Regions from separate parts of the Homo sapiens genome. Here region 1 is linked to region 2. Evidence: fine-mapped expression QTL. Tissue or cell type: whole blood. Region 2 holds a variant in brackets; the other region holds the start of a gene. All regions are shown on one strand. Distances are between the middles of the regions.

Region 1 (8,109 bases), 66 kb after region 2:
AAAAATGTTAAGATTAACATAATTTACATACAAATTCAGCTCAAGTTAACTGTAAAATAAAATTCCATATTATAGGTTCATTTTCAAAATATATTTTTATTTTCTTCAAACAGCATCAAGCTAAAGGACCAGGTATGGTTAGACAAGTACATGAATGTGAATTCAACCCTATATTACCAGCACAGGCAAGACCCCATTTCCCAGAATTGGATAAAACTAGGTAAATGCATGTCTTTGTCTTATATTTATCTAGAGGTGATATAAATAATGTAAAATATTTACAAACAAGCAGAATATTAAAAGGAAGGATAAAGGTTTACTTTGGATTAGAAGTTTGTGTAAGCTTTTTTCTCTTTTAATTTGTGTAGACAGCTTTGATATTTAAGGACAAGACAAAAATCACCAAGTAAAAATAATTGGGAAAGCCAGTATGAATTAGTAAATACTTATAATAACTTAAATCCAAATTCCATCAAGAACTCAATCTTGGCCAGGCGCGGTGGCTCACGCCTGTAATCCCAGCACTTTGGGAGGCCGAGGCAGGCAGATCACAAGGTCAGGAGTTTGAGACCGGCCTGGCCAATGTGGCGAAACCCCGTCTCTACTAAAAATACGAAAATTAGCCAGGCATGGTGGCATGTGCCTGTGGTACCAGCTGCTCAGGAGGCTGAGGCAGAGGAGTCGCTTGAACACGGGAGGCAGAGGTTGTGGTGAGCTGAGATTGCGCTGTTGCACTCCAGCCTGAGCGACAGAGCGAGACTCTGTCTCAAAAAAAAAAAAAAAGAACTCAATCTTGTCTGAGAGTCTATCAGAGGTACTCAGAATAATTTAATATATTGATAGCCACAGATTTTTACTAGTATACTTTCTTTCTATGCAAATAGGTGGTTTATTTATTTATTTATTTATTTATTTGAGACAGGGTCTCACTCTGTTGCCCAGGCTGGAGTACAGTGGTACAATCACAGCTCACTGTAGTCTTGGAGCTCCTGAGCTCAAGCTATCCTCCTGCCTCAGCCTCTTGAGTAGCTGGGACAGAGGTATGTGCCACCGTGCCCAGATAATTTAAATTTTTTTTTTTTTTTTTTTTTTTTTGGAGAGACAAGGGACTCCCTATGTTACTCCTGGACTAAAGCAATCCTCCCACATTGGCTTTCCAAAGTGCTGAGGTTACAGGCACAAGCCCCTGCGCCCGACCACAAGTAGGTGTTTTAAACCAGTGTTTTTTTTTAACAAGGCACAAACATTCGACTTAAGGGTGACAGCATAGTACTTTACCAGGAATAAAGTTATGTTTTACACATATACACGTGGAAAAATTAAAACCCTATGAAGTTGGTATTGTCTTATATTAAGTAATGAGGAAACTGAGGCATAAAGTAGCTAAGGATTTTGTTCAAAGAGCAAGTGATGGCATAATCAGAACTTGAACCCAGGTCTACCCAGCATCAGAGCCCATATTCCTAATCCCCACACTGGGGCTGCAGGAGGAAATTAATGGAAGGATTCCCACAAAACAAGACAAATCTTTTACCATATAAATAAATTCACATTATGAGTGGACAAATGAAACTGTACTATTAAAGCACTTTATCCTCTTTTTTCTTTTTTTTTTTTTTTTGCTTTTTGTTTTGTTTTGTTTTGTTTTTGAGACAGAGTCTCACTCTGTCGCCCAGGCTGGAGTGTAGTGGCGCGATCTCGGCTCACTGCAAGCTCTGCCTCCCGGGTTCACGCCATTCTCCTGCCTCAGCCTCCCAAGTAGCTGGGACTACAGGCGCCTGCCACCATGCCCAGCTAATTTTTTGTATTTTTAGTAGAGACGGGGTTTCACTGTGTTAGCCAGGATGGTCTCCATCTCCTGACCTCGTGATCCGCCCTCCTCGGCCTCCCAAAGTGCTGGGATTACAGGCGTGAGACACCATGCCCGGCCTCTTCATTTTTTTAAATCAGAAAGTGTTTCTAATTTTTATCCCCAAAATAAATAAAGCCTTCTTTATTTTGGGGCAGCGGGTAGGCAGCTAATTCTACTGAGATATTTGCCATTCATTTTCCTTGGTTTTCCAACTTCATTAAAGGAAACAAGTGAGAAAGTGAATCTAAGTAACTAATGGAGATGCAACAAAAATTCAAAGTCATCCCAACAGGATCTCAGACATCAAACCCCTAAAAGGGAATATATAATTCTGTACTTACTGCAACTGGTTCACATGAGGAAAAAAAAAAAAAAAAAGGAAGACTCTGTGAGAGATAACTAAACACTTCCTGGTATTTTTTTAATGGTTCATTTGAAAATCTTTTCAGGAATCGCAAAATAGTGTACAGTGAGCTCTTCAGGGTATTAAGGCCTGGATAACCCATCAGAAAGCTGCCTCTTTCTGAGCAATTTGATCTGGCAAGATTCCAGGGTAATTACAACCAAATAAGAAAACAGATGCAACAGTTAATACTTATGCGATGATATGAGCTTAGAAATAAATGGTTGTATCTAAATAAATGCTTTTTAACAGAAAAAAGTCATGCAAATCATGTTCATCGTTAACTATTCATGGACACGAGACCATATGTCTGTGACCTTTGTTACTGTTAAGTACTATAGCTTGTAGATACGTGGGTTACTTGAAAGTAATTGGCTGCTTCTACTGTGGCGAGACACTAATTATTCTGAGGAGGAAAGAAATGCAACAATCTCTAATTGATTTCCAGATTATCCACCCCATCTAAGGGTAAACCTAAGCTAAATAATAATATTAAAGGCCTGGTACTTTCCAAAAGCTAAGGGATGAAAGAAAATCTACTGTTTATCGGCCATAAGGTTATATACTGTTTCTTAGCAACCAGGGTTTGTCTTTCAGAGACTAGAAGTCGATGAAAAAGGAGAGACTAAAAATAAAACCATCTGGACAGTTCCAATTCACAGAGGCAGCACTTCAAAGGCAGTGATGTTGTGATAAACCATACTGTTGAGTTAAAGTTCATTCCATTGGCTAGAAAGAGAGGCTCATGACACTTGCTTAATAAATGTTTCCCGGATACTCACTGCAGTCCCTGAACCAAAGACCAGGAATAAAAGCTACCTATCTGTTCCTGCATAGAGCACATATCAACATCAGGGATGAGAGGTACTATGGTCACTCACCTCCTCACTCTCTCAGCTCCACTCCTCTGGTTGTAAGAGGCTAGTTTATCTGCGAGTCTTGCTGGGACGTAGGCTTGCTCCTACCTAGAGGCAGAATTTGAACCTTCTACCCCATATCACATTTCTTGTTGACCCTTACCTGTTAGTGTCTGATACAGTAATTCCGTTTAGGACACCAAGTTTTGTTTTTCTGTTTTGTTTTGTTTTGAGACAGTCTCGCTCTGTTGCCCAGGCTGGAGTGCAATGGCGCAATTTCCGCTCACTGCAACCTCCGCCTCCCGGGTTCAAGCGATTCTCCTACCTCAGCCTCCCAGGTAGCTGGGACTACAGGCACGTGCCATCACACCCAGCTTATTTTTTATTTTTAGTAAAGACTGGGTTTCACCATGTTGGCCAGGCTGGTTTCGAACTCCTGACCTCAGGTGATCTGCCTGCCTTGGCCTCCCAAAGTGCTGGGATAACAGGCTTGAGCCAACGCGCCTGGCCCAGCACCAAATTTTTAAAAACAGTAAGGGAAAAGTTATTTCCATACTGGTTGGAGTATGAGTTCTGGAGATACCTGGAAAATGACATCTTACTGGATGCCTAGGCAGTTCCGACACACCCATATCTTTCAATCCTGTAGCCAGTCACAAAAATCAGGAAAGTAGTATTCCTGGAAGGAACCGGGCTGGTTATTTACCAAAGGACTGCAAACTAGCCGACTCAATTTATAAGGTGCGGCATGGATACTTTCATTTAAGCAAATGAGCTTTCATTCAGTCAAAATCCCTGTTGTTGGGCCCCTGTGGTTTTAAACTCCAAGGACCAAGGTGCTTGTGAGTGAGTATGTTTGGGGCCCGGGCTCCCGCCCCGAAGCCAGGTTGTTAAAATACTCACCGCCTCTGGCCCGCGTGCACGACGCTCTCCCGCGAAGGGCCCTTAGGGGCTGCCTCCAAACCCTCTCTCTGGTCTTCCACGGGGCTCAGCTCCCCTTGCCGCCCAGAAGGGTCCTGGGGATCCCGGGTCGGGCGGGAGGCAGGGGAGGCGCCGAGCCCGGAGTTCACCACTCTATTGCGGGTGTTCATGGTTCACAGCCCGCGGGTCCCGGGCCGCCGTCGCTGCGGGAGGGATGCGGCTGGGACGCTTAGCGAGTCTCAAGATGGGATTCCAAAGTGCAGAGGCAGCGGTTTTAACAGCTGAGTTTCGGTTTCTCAGAATCAGCAGCAGACTGCGCCCGCCCCAGAGAACTTCCCCACGTATTCTCCACTGAGGCCCCGTCCGACCTTATCGCGGGTTAACAGCCCAGGATGTTGACTTGAGCTGGCTTGGTCGGCTACAGGTGAGACGGTTTAAAGTCTCACAATCACCTTAGAGGTTAATCAGAATAACTGGGATCAGCCACGGACACCTGGTGAGCGATTAGCCCGCAGAGTGACTACAATCCTGAAAGATACTTGAGAAACTGTTTAACAGGCAACTCTAATTTGAGGTTACCGCTGGATATTTGAGACTGTAAAAAATATATTAACCTTAAAATACCAGAGATTAGGTCAATAACTAAAATCATCTCAACAAAATGTCGCCTTTTATCAGTAATGACTGCTGTGTGGCTGTTACCAATGCACATACTTTCAAGTTAGAGGAAATGGAAACTGAAATCAAAAGAAAACAAAAACCTACAAAGCCGGAGAAGTAAGCTAAGGTAGACATGATTCTCCAGGCAGCCTTGCTAAGTAATTGACTAGACATTCGAGAACTATTAAAAATACCTGCTCTGTGCAGAACAGTGTGCAACGGTGATGTGGGGACATTTTAAAATATGGATGTGTAAGGCTCAGTTCCTGTAGGTTCAGGGGTGAGCTCTGGCATTCATATTTTTGAAAAGCTCCCAGATGATTCTGATGTGTGCCAGGGTTGGTCACCAGGGTCACAATGCCGTCTACACAAAGATGAGTGAAGGCTCTTCCCTCATGCTACCTGCATTCTAGGAGTATCCTAGTAGACAGGTAAACAAATGGGAATGCCACTTTGGGATAAATGAAATGACAGGCAGCTGTGGAGGCACAGAGAAACTGGGGATTAGCCCTCTGAGTAATTCAGGAACAGGGACATTTGAGAATGAGCCACCAAAGACATAGGAATTCACCAAGAAGAAGGAGATGCTATGGCAGAGGCTTGTCACTTAAAATGACATGGTGTGTACTTAATTCCAGGGGTTGTCATGTGGCTGGAGCACCCCAGTCCTAGGTCAGCAAGACAGTTAGGAGCTGGACTGTCTTCCTTATATTATTGGTGCTTAGAACAAAAAGACACATACAGGTTTGATAGCTAATGAAAGAATGAAATTGAAGGGTGGGCCAGGGTGGGACAGGAGAGGAGAAAATAATGACAAGGAACATGGTAGGAAAGTCAGTCAGGATTTCTATGCCATCCTAAGACATTAGGGTTTTGTAGAGTAGGCCAGAGTTTCACAAATTTCAGTAAGCATCAGAACCACTTGGAGGAGGGTGCGTTAAAACAGATTTATGGCCAGGCACGGTGGCTCACTCCTGTAATTCCAGTACTTTTGGAGGCCGAGGCAGGAGGATTACCTGGAGATCAGGAGTTGAAGACCAGCCTAGCCAACGTGGCGAAACCCCACCTCCACCTGGGCGACAGAGAGAGACTCCATCTCAAAAATATATATATATAGTTTCTGATTCAGGTCTGGGATGGGGCCCAAGGATTTGCATTTCTAACAAATTTCCAGGTGATACCAATGATGCCAGTCTCAGGATCACCCTTTGGGAACCACTGTTGTAGGCAATGTGGAAGGCACAGGAAGTTTTTCAATAGGGCAGTTACTCAATAATATCTGTTTTACAAAGTTAGCTTCTAACAATGTGAAAACGGAGATTGAAAGATGAAGAGACTGAAATCGGGAAGATAAATTCAGAGCCTAGTTACGTCTAGGTAAGAAATACAGATCTGAGCTAAGGCAACCCAGAAAGTGGGGAGCAAAATCAAGACATTTCACATGGGCCAGGCTCAGTTGCTCATGCCTGTAATCCCAGCACTTTTGGAGGCTGAGGCAGGAGGATCACCTGAGGCCAGGAGTTTAAGGCCAGCCTGGGCAGCATGGTAAGACCTCATCTCTACAAAACAAATAAATAAAACATAAAAGACATTTCACATGAGAGATTAGCATAGATAAAAACTAGATGAAAGAGAGAATTGAGTACTGGAAGGCAGCAGAGAGAAGGGGAGATGGCTTTTATAGTGCTTTGAGACCAGCTTTGCCACATACTGGCCACACAACCAAGGCCAAATCTCTTAATTCCTCAGAGATCCAGTTTCCTCCTCTGCCTCATGTGGGTATTGTGAGGAATAGAGATCATCCACATCAGTGGTTCTCAAATGGAGTTGATTTTTCCTCTAGCAGACATCTGGCAATGCCTGGACATATTTTTGATTGTGAAGCCTCAAAGTGGGTAGGTGCTGCTAGCATCTAGTGTGTAAAGGCCGGGGATGCTCCTAAACATCCTACAATGCACAGAATAGGCCCACATGACAAAGAGTTGTCCTGCCCCACGTGTCAACAGTGTTGAAGTTGAAAAATCCTGATCTTCACAGTATGCCTACCTTATAGCCCCAGTAATTTAATGGTTGCTGTCTTTATGGTGACTTTTAGCTTTGTGACTGGATACGAGGTAGAACCATTAACCTAGAGGAGGGACAAGCTTTGAGGGAAGTTCTAAAAGTCTGTTTAGGTGCTGTTGGGTGTAAGGTACCAGCGGGGTGAGAAACGCAGACCTAGAGATCAACAAAAAAGAGGAACAGCAGGGCCTTTCTGGAGGCCATCTTCCACATTGTTCTTTACTAGGAAAATACCCCTGGAACTCTTGTTTCAAAGGAGAAAATTATTTTGGTGGTTGGATGAAATTTAAAGTTTGAGGAAGGGAAAACCCACACTGGGGGAAAACTGATTCTCCTAAAGGAGCTAGTAATAGGGATGTTGGCCTCAAGAATATACTTAGTTAACCATATTTGTTTCACAACACAACCACATGTCACACCAAAGTTTCAAACCTGAGATTTCTCACTCCATTCACTTCTTGTTTTACCTGAGATTTCTCACTCCATTCACTTCTTGTTTTGCCACATTCTCAAAGTGTTTTAAAAAATGTGAATGTGAGGCTGGATGCGGTGGCTCACACCTGTAATCCCAGCACTTTGGGAGGCCGAGGCAGGCGGATCACGAGGTCAGGAGATCGAGACCATCCTGGCTAATACGGTGAAACCCTGTCTCTACTAAAAATACAAAAAATTAGCCGGGCGTGGTGGTGGGCGCCTGTAGTTCCAGCTATTCCGAAGGCTGAGGCAGGAGAATGGCGTGAACCCGGGAGGCGGAGCTTGCAGTGAGCCGAAATCATGCCACTGCACTCCGGCCTGGGTGACAGAGCGAGACTCCGTCTCAACAACAACAACAAAAAAAAGTGAATGTGATTTATTATGGCAACAGACATCTACAGGCTCCTTTTGGATGCCCGAGAATGGGCTACTTGTGTATCATCCATTCTTTCACCGTAGGTGTGTGCATTTGGGCGAAAATAAGGGCTGGCCTTTTACTGGAGTTGTTCTTGGGTGCGTTTTTCTATAGTAGTGGCTGGTGGAGAGAAGCAGAGGTGAGTGGGGAGGGTCCTGGGCCCCTATCCCTATTTAGCCAAGTACTTTAGCCCCTTATCTCTTCTACTCACTAGGCCACTGCCTAATTTTGTTTGAGGCAAGAATTCAATGGCTTTTAAAAGTTTGAAAAACCACCATACTAGACAATTACCTAGGAATATGTTTTAAGAGACATGAGAAAGAAGTGAAATCTAGTGGGATTGTTACCTTACCTGAAATTTGGCCAATTAGAGATTCATTTAGGAAATGTTTTTCTTTTCAAATGAAACTGCCTCTGGGAAATAATCATGTATTCGTTCCTTTTGGTAAATGAGTTTAATCTGAGC
Region 2 (8,109 bases):
ATCCAGGAGGGAGAGAAAAAAAAAAATCCACAAGTTATCTGACAGGCATAAGTTGGAAAATTGTTTAGAAATTTGCGTCAAGAGGCATTTTGTAGAACAGTCACAAAAGCTGTCAGAAGACAGTCAAATGTTCAAAGGAAACTAAGAAAACGCTAAAATAAAATGTTTAAAGAGTTGTACAGAAGATATAACCAGAGTATACCGACTGGCTTGGCAGTGAGAAAACGTGTATATAGTCATAATAGGGAAAGCTCAAATTACTGAATAATTATAAGAATGAGAGGAAGAAATGAGTTAATAAGGTCTAAAATTGATTAGTCAAGAGATACCAACACATATTAACAGATATTCGGAGCTAACTAAGAAAAGAAACAGGTGGTGGGTTGCATAATGGCCCCCCAAAGACGTCCCAATCCCTGGAATCTGTGAATGTTTCTTTATGTGACAAAAGGGACTTTGCAGAAATTAAGGATCTGGAAGTGGAGAGATTAGCCTGGATAGTCCAGGTGGGCCCATTGTAATCAAAAGGGTCATTATAAGAGGAAGGCAGAAAGGTCAGGGAGGGTGCAGAAGGTTGGGTGAGATGGAAGCTAAACTGGAGCCATGCAGCCGTGTGCCAAGGGTTTGCGGGGACAGGGGACAGATGCCCCCCGGAAGCTTCAAAAGGAACCATTCCTGTTGATACCCTCATTTTAGCATTTTAAAACCCATTTTTATTGCTGACCTCCAGAAGTGTTAAGAGAATAAATTTTTGTTCTATTAGGTCACTACATTCGTGGTAATTTGTTACAGCAGCAAAGGGAAGTGTTCAAATGTTGCGGTGGAAGTGGGATTCAAGCGGCGCAAAGGGACACATGTTAAGTACTTTATTTGACTTCTTAATGAATGAGCATGTGACACGTAGATAAAAATTACAATAATCAACCTGCACTGAGTGCTCACAGTAGTGTGAGAGAGGAGAGCTGGAGAGGCATGAGCTATAGAGCTTGGCCCCTCAGACATTAACGTGCACACACATCTTCCATGGACTGTATTAAATACAAGCTCTGATTCAGGAGGTCTGCAGTGGGGCCTGAGATTGATCTGCATCTAAATCTTTGCTCCTGATTTCAAAAGCTTTGCTTCCCCTTACCTTGCTTGCAAAAGCTTTGCTTCCCCTCACCCCTTTGCAGAAGCAAAGATTTAGACTCGAGGCCAGTCCTCCAGACCCCAGAGGACTAGAAAGGGGCCATTCTAAAGAAAGAGACAGAATCTAGAATTAAAGGAGAGACGGAGGGACAGAGAGAGGAAAGGACTTTGTGCCTAAGCTAAGACATTTTGATTTTATCCTTGAAGATATGGGGGACCACTGAATGATTTGGGGAAGTGAAACACCAGGATAAGATTTTTTCACATCGTTATTCTTCGTTGAGGAAGTAGGGGCATAAGGCCGGGTGCGGTGGCTCACACCTGTAATCCCAGCACTTTGGGAGGCCAAGGTGGGTGGATCATTTCAGCCCAGGAGTTTGAGATCACCCTGCGCAATGTGGCAAAACCCTGTCTCTACAAAAACTACAAAAGTTAGCTGGGCGTGGGGGTGCGTGCCTGTGGTCCCAGCCACTTAGGAGGCTGAGGTGGCAGGATGGCTTGAACCTGGGAGGTGGAGGTTGCAGTGAGCCAAGATCATGCTGCTGCACTCCAGCCTGGGTGACAGAGTGAGACCCTGTCTAAAAATAAATAAATAAATAAAAAATGGGGGCAGCAAACCAGAGACTAGAAACCATTTCATATTTGACTAGAAATATGCAGCGATGGTCGCTGAGGAAGGTCTGATGATGCTGGTACTTCTGCCTACACACACAATACAGAGAACTATATTAATCCACATGTAAAAGTGAACCCTGTAAATATCTCTTGTCTGAAGTCCTAAGCCAAAAGGAATTTTCTTGTAACCACTAAAGGATTTTTCTTGTAATCTTTTACATTGACATAATTTTCTAGTATTTATTAAATCCCCATCTGCCAATGGCAGATCCACTTTTAAAGGAGAAAAGTACAAGAGGAAAAATCTTTTCAGGAAAGTTACATTAGGTAGTAAAATTAAAGTATTAAAAATTATATATAAATTCTTCCAGCTCATCACATCCCATATAGATGGCAATCACATAGTGTTCACATTCTATAAGTTGACCATAGCTAAAGTAAACTGCAGGTGTCCTCTTTTTACAAAGAAATGTTCTTCACAGAAGTGCAATGTACATATTTGATTTTCCTACACCATTAGAAATGATTCTGCAAAGCATTCTCAGAAGAATTCTATGCATATGGATGAGACAGAATGAGAAGAGTATAATATGGGTAAAAAGTCAATTAAATATATTGAACACTGAAACCGTATTAATAGTTTGGGGTCAAAATCGGAGCAGCTATTGCGTGGAGTTTATAAGGAACCGTCCTGGGTCCAATCTCCCTCCATATTTTCTATTAATAGCTCTGAGGATCCTATGACAAATGCACTAATCAATCCACAGAAAATGCAGCTCTGGGAAACATTGCTAATGCTTTGGATGACAATATTAAAATTCAGGACGATCTTGTTAAATTGAAGAAATGAGCCAAAATCAATAGAGCAGCACACGCAGTTCTGCCAGGTGTTCCACATTGCAGGATACAGGGAGCCCTCGAACGGAAAGGAAGACCAGCCTGGTAGGCGAAACTCCAGCTGGTAAAGCTATCCAACTCCTGTTCTCCCTCTCCCTCCCTGACAGCCACAAGGATATCCAGACAGGTGTTTAGGGCTGTCATCTACACATGATTTAACTCCACTGCCTACAGCTTCTCAACTCTTTCCCCCAGAGCCCAGCAGTGAGGGAAGAGAGATGATGAATTTCCTTTAATATAAGTTGTAGGGCCCACACTGATGAATTTAGACTTTAGAACATCACATTAGAAGCAGAAAGAAAAAAATTAGGAAACAACTAAAGATTTCTAAGTAGGAGTATAATGACCTCTTCCTAAGGAGTGTCATAATATCTTCCTGACATTTAAAAACATGGTCTCTATTGAGAAAGGGGTAAGGGGAGATGAAGATGAGGGTTCTTTAACAACTCATTTAGCTACCCAAACTCTGAGAAACCTGAGACTTTAAGAAACTTAAATTCATCTTTTCTTTCAGCTACAACCCTTATCCAGAGTCATCCTTAATTACACTTACTTTCTTGTCCCCAGTTAGCAAGTCAATAAACAAGCCCTGCCGCTTTCACCTTCTAAGCAGTTTTCTGACCTGCACTCTCTTCTCCATCCTCTCCCCCGCTGTCCTAGCTGAAGTCTTCATCATTCTTTACCCAGACTGATACAGAAGCCTTGGGGGGCCTCTCTGCTTCTCTATTCCTTTAGAGCCCTCCTTCACAATGTTGCCAATGTGATCCAGAATGAAAACACAAATCTAACCTTGAGTTTTCCCTGTTTAAACATTTCCAATACCCTCAGTGCTCACAGAATGGGGTTTAGGTTTTCCAAGGTGGCATGCAAATTTCTGTGGTGGTTTTCTACCAGGAGCACCATGAGCACGCAGTATGCGGGGCATTTCTACATGTCTCATTGGTAAGCACTGTGTGGGGGCATTTCTAGATGTCTCAGTGTCTGGGTGGCGCTACTGGCCCTTCATGCCCAGGGCCTAGGGATACTAAGCATCCTGCAGTAATCAAGACAACTCACACAATGAACTGTCCCACCTGAATTTCCAGAGGTAACACCATTGGGAAAGGGTCCTCACCGTTCCTGCTCATTTCTATATCCTTCTAGCTCACTTTTCTGCACTGCAGCTACATAACTCTTCTTCCGCAACACAAGCCATGCTTATTTCTTGCATTTATACCTTAATTCTTGCTCTATGTGTCTTTATTAATTCTGATACCTGGAAAGACTCATCACTTTACTGATTCATAGTTTAAGCTTCTGCTCTGGTGTCATTTCCCAAGAAGCATCTAACGCACATGGTCTGACTTAGATGCTTCTTCCTGATAAGGCAGTAGTGCTTTCTTATTGTGATATGCTCTGTGCTCAGCAGTTTGCTTTAAAACCATTAGTGTTCTCCTTTACTAAGGTTCATTGGGCAGAAACTGTAGGCACTTAGTAGGCCTTATATAGACCTATGAATTTAAAGAATGGAAGGAAGGATGGATGGATGCATGGATGGAAGGAAGGAAGGAAGGAAGGTAGGAAGGATGGAAGGATGGAAGAATGGATGGGTGGATGGGTGGGTGAATGAATGGTTGGGTGAGAGGAAAAACTTCTCTGAGGCTGTTTTAGTCCAGGTGCCCATAAAATAATACAAGCATTATTTTATAGCTCAGGCAACAGTTGAGGTCAAAGTTTCGGATCAGGTCATCTGTCTTTAGTTCCAGCATTCTATGATGTACAAGTCACTCTATATCCCTCATCTTCAGTCACTAAATACCTCTATAAAATGTGCCAGGCAGCACCCTGCAAAGTAATTCACTTACCCATGTTGAGGATTGTGGGCCACAAACAGCACTTTGACAGGCACTTCTGTCTGGCGATTCTGTGTTCAGTTTGCTCAAGAACTCAGCGGTTTT[G/C]CTACCAGAAACACAAACAGGTGTTAGTGCCTTCACAAAAATATGAACATAATTCTTTATTTTTCCTTTGGATACTAACCTAGACTTATTTGGGTGATGATTAAAATTATCTTCAGCAGAACAGAAAGTTACGTTGAGAACAAGGTGTAGCAGAAATCAAAACAAAATGCTATTGCAAGATTGCATTCTTCAAGAACAATATTACAAAATTATAAAACTAGCTTTATGAAATGTGAGCTTATGACCTCATTTTTTCCACTTTATATTACTGACATAAATACAAGTCCTCTCCCAGAGCACATTCCACAGCATGCAGCCCTAATTTCCTATCTGAACATTTAATGCTTAACACTCAGACTTCAGGGTGGAGCTGTGGAACATTCACGCCCTACAACATCCTGCTTCACACCAGTTTTACATTAAGCCCTTTACCCTCTCATCTGCCTCATGGCTTTGACCACTGTTAGGACACAGAGACCCTCTAATCCAGTAGCTCTTTTCCATTTATGGATCATGGAGCCCTTTTGGACTCTGAAAGCAAAAGTGAACCCTCTGTTAACAGACACACACACACACACACACACACACACACACACACACAGTCCTTTGCATTTTGTTTCAGAGAGAGGATAAACCCTCCATAGGGTTTATCTATAGAGGTTAAAAAGTGCTGCTGATTCTAGACTGCATTTCTAATATCTCTTTTTAGCTCTGAAAAATTGACCTAGAAATGTCCTCAGTTTAAATAAGAAGTTCTCTGTTTTTACCTTAAAAATCCAAACCACCACCCCAATTTCCCCTCTCACTTATGCCAAGCATAGAACACTGGAATTGTTTCCTAGTCCTTACCTCAGTGCCTGGCCCATTCTGCCTACCCTTGATTAATTTCTACGCCTTTGTCCTTTTCTCATGTAATTTGTGTGATTTTTATCTCTTCATTGCACATTCACAGCCACATACCTCATTGAGCACTGACTTACTTTGCACCAGACTTGCGCAGCCTGTTCCCATCTCCCTCCCTCCTCCTGCTAGCCCTCTGCTTCCCCCTAATATTTTAAGCCCAATGCTAAGATCTGATTCATCAAGTACTTAGGACATGGGCATCAAAGGAAACACAAAGTATCTGGTAGAACAAATGGCATCCAGTGTAGGAGCAAAACAAGGAATTAGAAACTAAACAGGTGCCAGCATCACTTCAAATATTACTTAGGTAGAACATGGCATTTGAAAAAGGTCAGAAGCTTGATCTGGGGAAGGAAGAAATAAAAGTGAAGCAACATACAGAACCCTGAGAAACATTCAGCAGTTGAGACGAGCAGCCTTTCCATTTGTCTTAGATTACTTATCTTGCCCAGAATAGACAAGGAGACTAATGAAGTCACAGAGTGTGGAAGCTGCCCCATTGTCTGGGGCTTTATGAAGTCATCAGTCAAAAGTATAAAAAGAAGAGTGATGCCAGAAGTTTGGATGAGATCTCTGAATATCCTAAGCCAAGTGCAGGCCATAGGAGAAAGCAGTGAAAAAGAAACACTGTGACAAGCAAGGAAGAAACTTCAGACCAAGTTGACAGGCAGCCCTTCAGTTTACTGACTGCCGCTTCTTACCTGCCAACGCCAAGCACAAAGCTGCCTGCAGAGCCAGCCTCTATCTGTGGTCCTTGTGCCAATTATCACTGCCCCACTCATGCCGCAGGATATAAAGCAGAGTGACAGGGTCACAGGACTGCCAGAGGAATACAGGTAGGGGCCTGCAGAGTATGCGGATTACTGCCAAGTGATCAACTATACAAAGGAAGTCCCATGTTACGACACTAACTCATATTTTTCTACTATTAGCATTAGTCCCTGGTATATAAAATTTCCATATATTGGCTGAACTGAAGTGGGATCCCTGTAGGTAACTCTGGTTATATTTAACAAAAATAAGATGTAGAACCTGTTTGAGGGGCAAACGAAGGAAAACATCCTCGTGGGAAGTCCAACTGGACTAAGAACCCTGGACTCTAGCACTGTTTTCACCTTGCCCTTGGGGGTTCTTGGTATTATCACTACCGTGACTCTACTGCCTGTTGGAGAGGGGTGGTCCTCTTCCACTTTGTCACTCTGATCCAAGCATGAAAGATTTCTTCCTCTATTCTCCATAGAACAAAATAAAATTTACTTATGTCCAACTTAGGATCTTTAAGGGTCCTTCCTGCTCATTCTTAGGTTGATTTCTATGGCATATCCTGAAAGGTCCCTTCAGGAAAATCTCGCCTCAACAGAATACAGTTGTAGCAGACTGCTAAATGGTCATGAAAATTTACATTCTCCTCTTCTGGCCACACAACTTGGCTACATTTCCTAGCCTCCCTTGCAGCTAAGGTTGGCTATATGATTGAGTCTTGACCAATGGAATGTGAGAAGTGTTGAATGCCACATCCAGTACTAACTTATTAGAAAATTCCCATGCATGTGCCTCCATACATTGTTCTCCTGGCTGGAACAGAGACAGCCCTCAAGGAAATGCTGGAAGTTGTGCATTGAAGGTGGTGGAGTCTCTATCAGTTTTGGTTCCTAAATACCTGAGTGGAGGAGGCTGCCTTTCAAATTATGACACAATGGTATTTTAAAAAGCAGTCTATGCTTTTTGTGAATTCACTTATATGTAGTAAAATTAGAAACACTTGCCAAGTGAGAAGAGCAGCTCCTGGCATCCAGGAACTGATCTGATGCTCACGTCTAAATCTCAGTGTTATTATAAACTGATTTGATCTGACACTGAAGTTAAGCCTTGTTCCACTGTTGGATGTAAATAGTCACACAGAATATCTACTTCACACAAGGTCATCATGCAATCTACAAAGTACCAAACATCATCTCCTCTAAGTGAATGACCACTACTTCTTCACTAATTACAGCTTCGTAGTCACTCTAGGTCCTTCCTATAGGTAAGATTTATTGAGATACCCAATCATAAAACTGTCCCCACATTCTGATGGCACTCAATCCAGAGCAACTCCCTGCCTCCGTAGACCCTCCCCAAAATTACCCAACCAAAGCACAAATCCTGTAGTAGGGTCTTTCTAACACTTTCTCCCTGAGATAACTCACCATTCCCTATGGTATGCATTTTCCTTTGCTGCAATGAGTAATAAACCCAACTTGTTCAACTACAGGTATATTCCTGGTAGTTTTTGGTTAACGCACATTGACAAATATTACATACCAGGACAGTGGTTACTGCTAGAGAAAGACAGAGAAGGAAGGGATGAGGGTGGAGGGACAGCTAGCTGTCTCTGTAATATTTATCTTTTTTAATTAACCAAATATAAGTAATATCTTAACAATATGAGCTTAGTGGTTGATGCATATTTTCTGTGTGTTTGAAATGTTTCTTAAATAAAAAGGGGATAAAAAACCCCACACAGACTATGGTGGTGTTTACTAGGGAAAGACTTGGCAGATACCATTCCAGATTTCATAGAACAATAGTTTCCAGAATGCCAGTGGGAAGACCAGTGTGGGGCTGGCTATATGAGAATCATCTGTGG

The links. PIP is the estimated chance that this variant, and not a neighbour inherited with it, causes the effect.
Region 1: it holds the start of EPSTI1, and the variant in region 2 is fine-mapped to the expression of EPSTI1 in whole blood (TOPMed, PIP above 0.99).

What each region holds. Positions count from the first base shown.
Region 1 is chr13:42,987,963-42,996,071 of GRCh38, forward strand. EPSTI1 (epithelial stromal interaction 1) reads right to left here and starts at 4,279. Exons shown (of 11, transcript NM_033255.5): 1 at 4,016-4,279. The coding sequence starts at 4,203. RefSeq lists enhancers at 4,293-4,412, 4,673-4,912.
Region 2 is chr13:42,921,852-42,929,960 of GRCh38, forward strand. EPSTI1 (epithelial stromal interaction 1) reads right to left here. Exons shown (of 11, transcript NM_033255.5): 7 at 4,485-4,578. Among named protein-coding and RNA genes, the nearest start is that of LINC00428, 53 kb to the left of the region's middle. The variant G/C (reference allele first, on the strand shown) is at 4,578.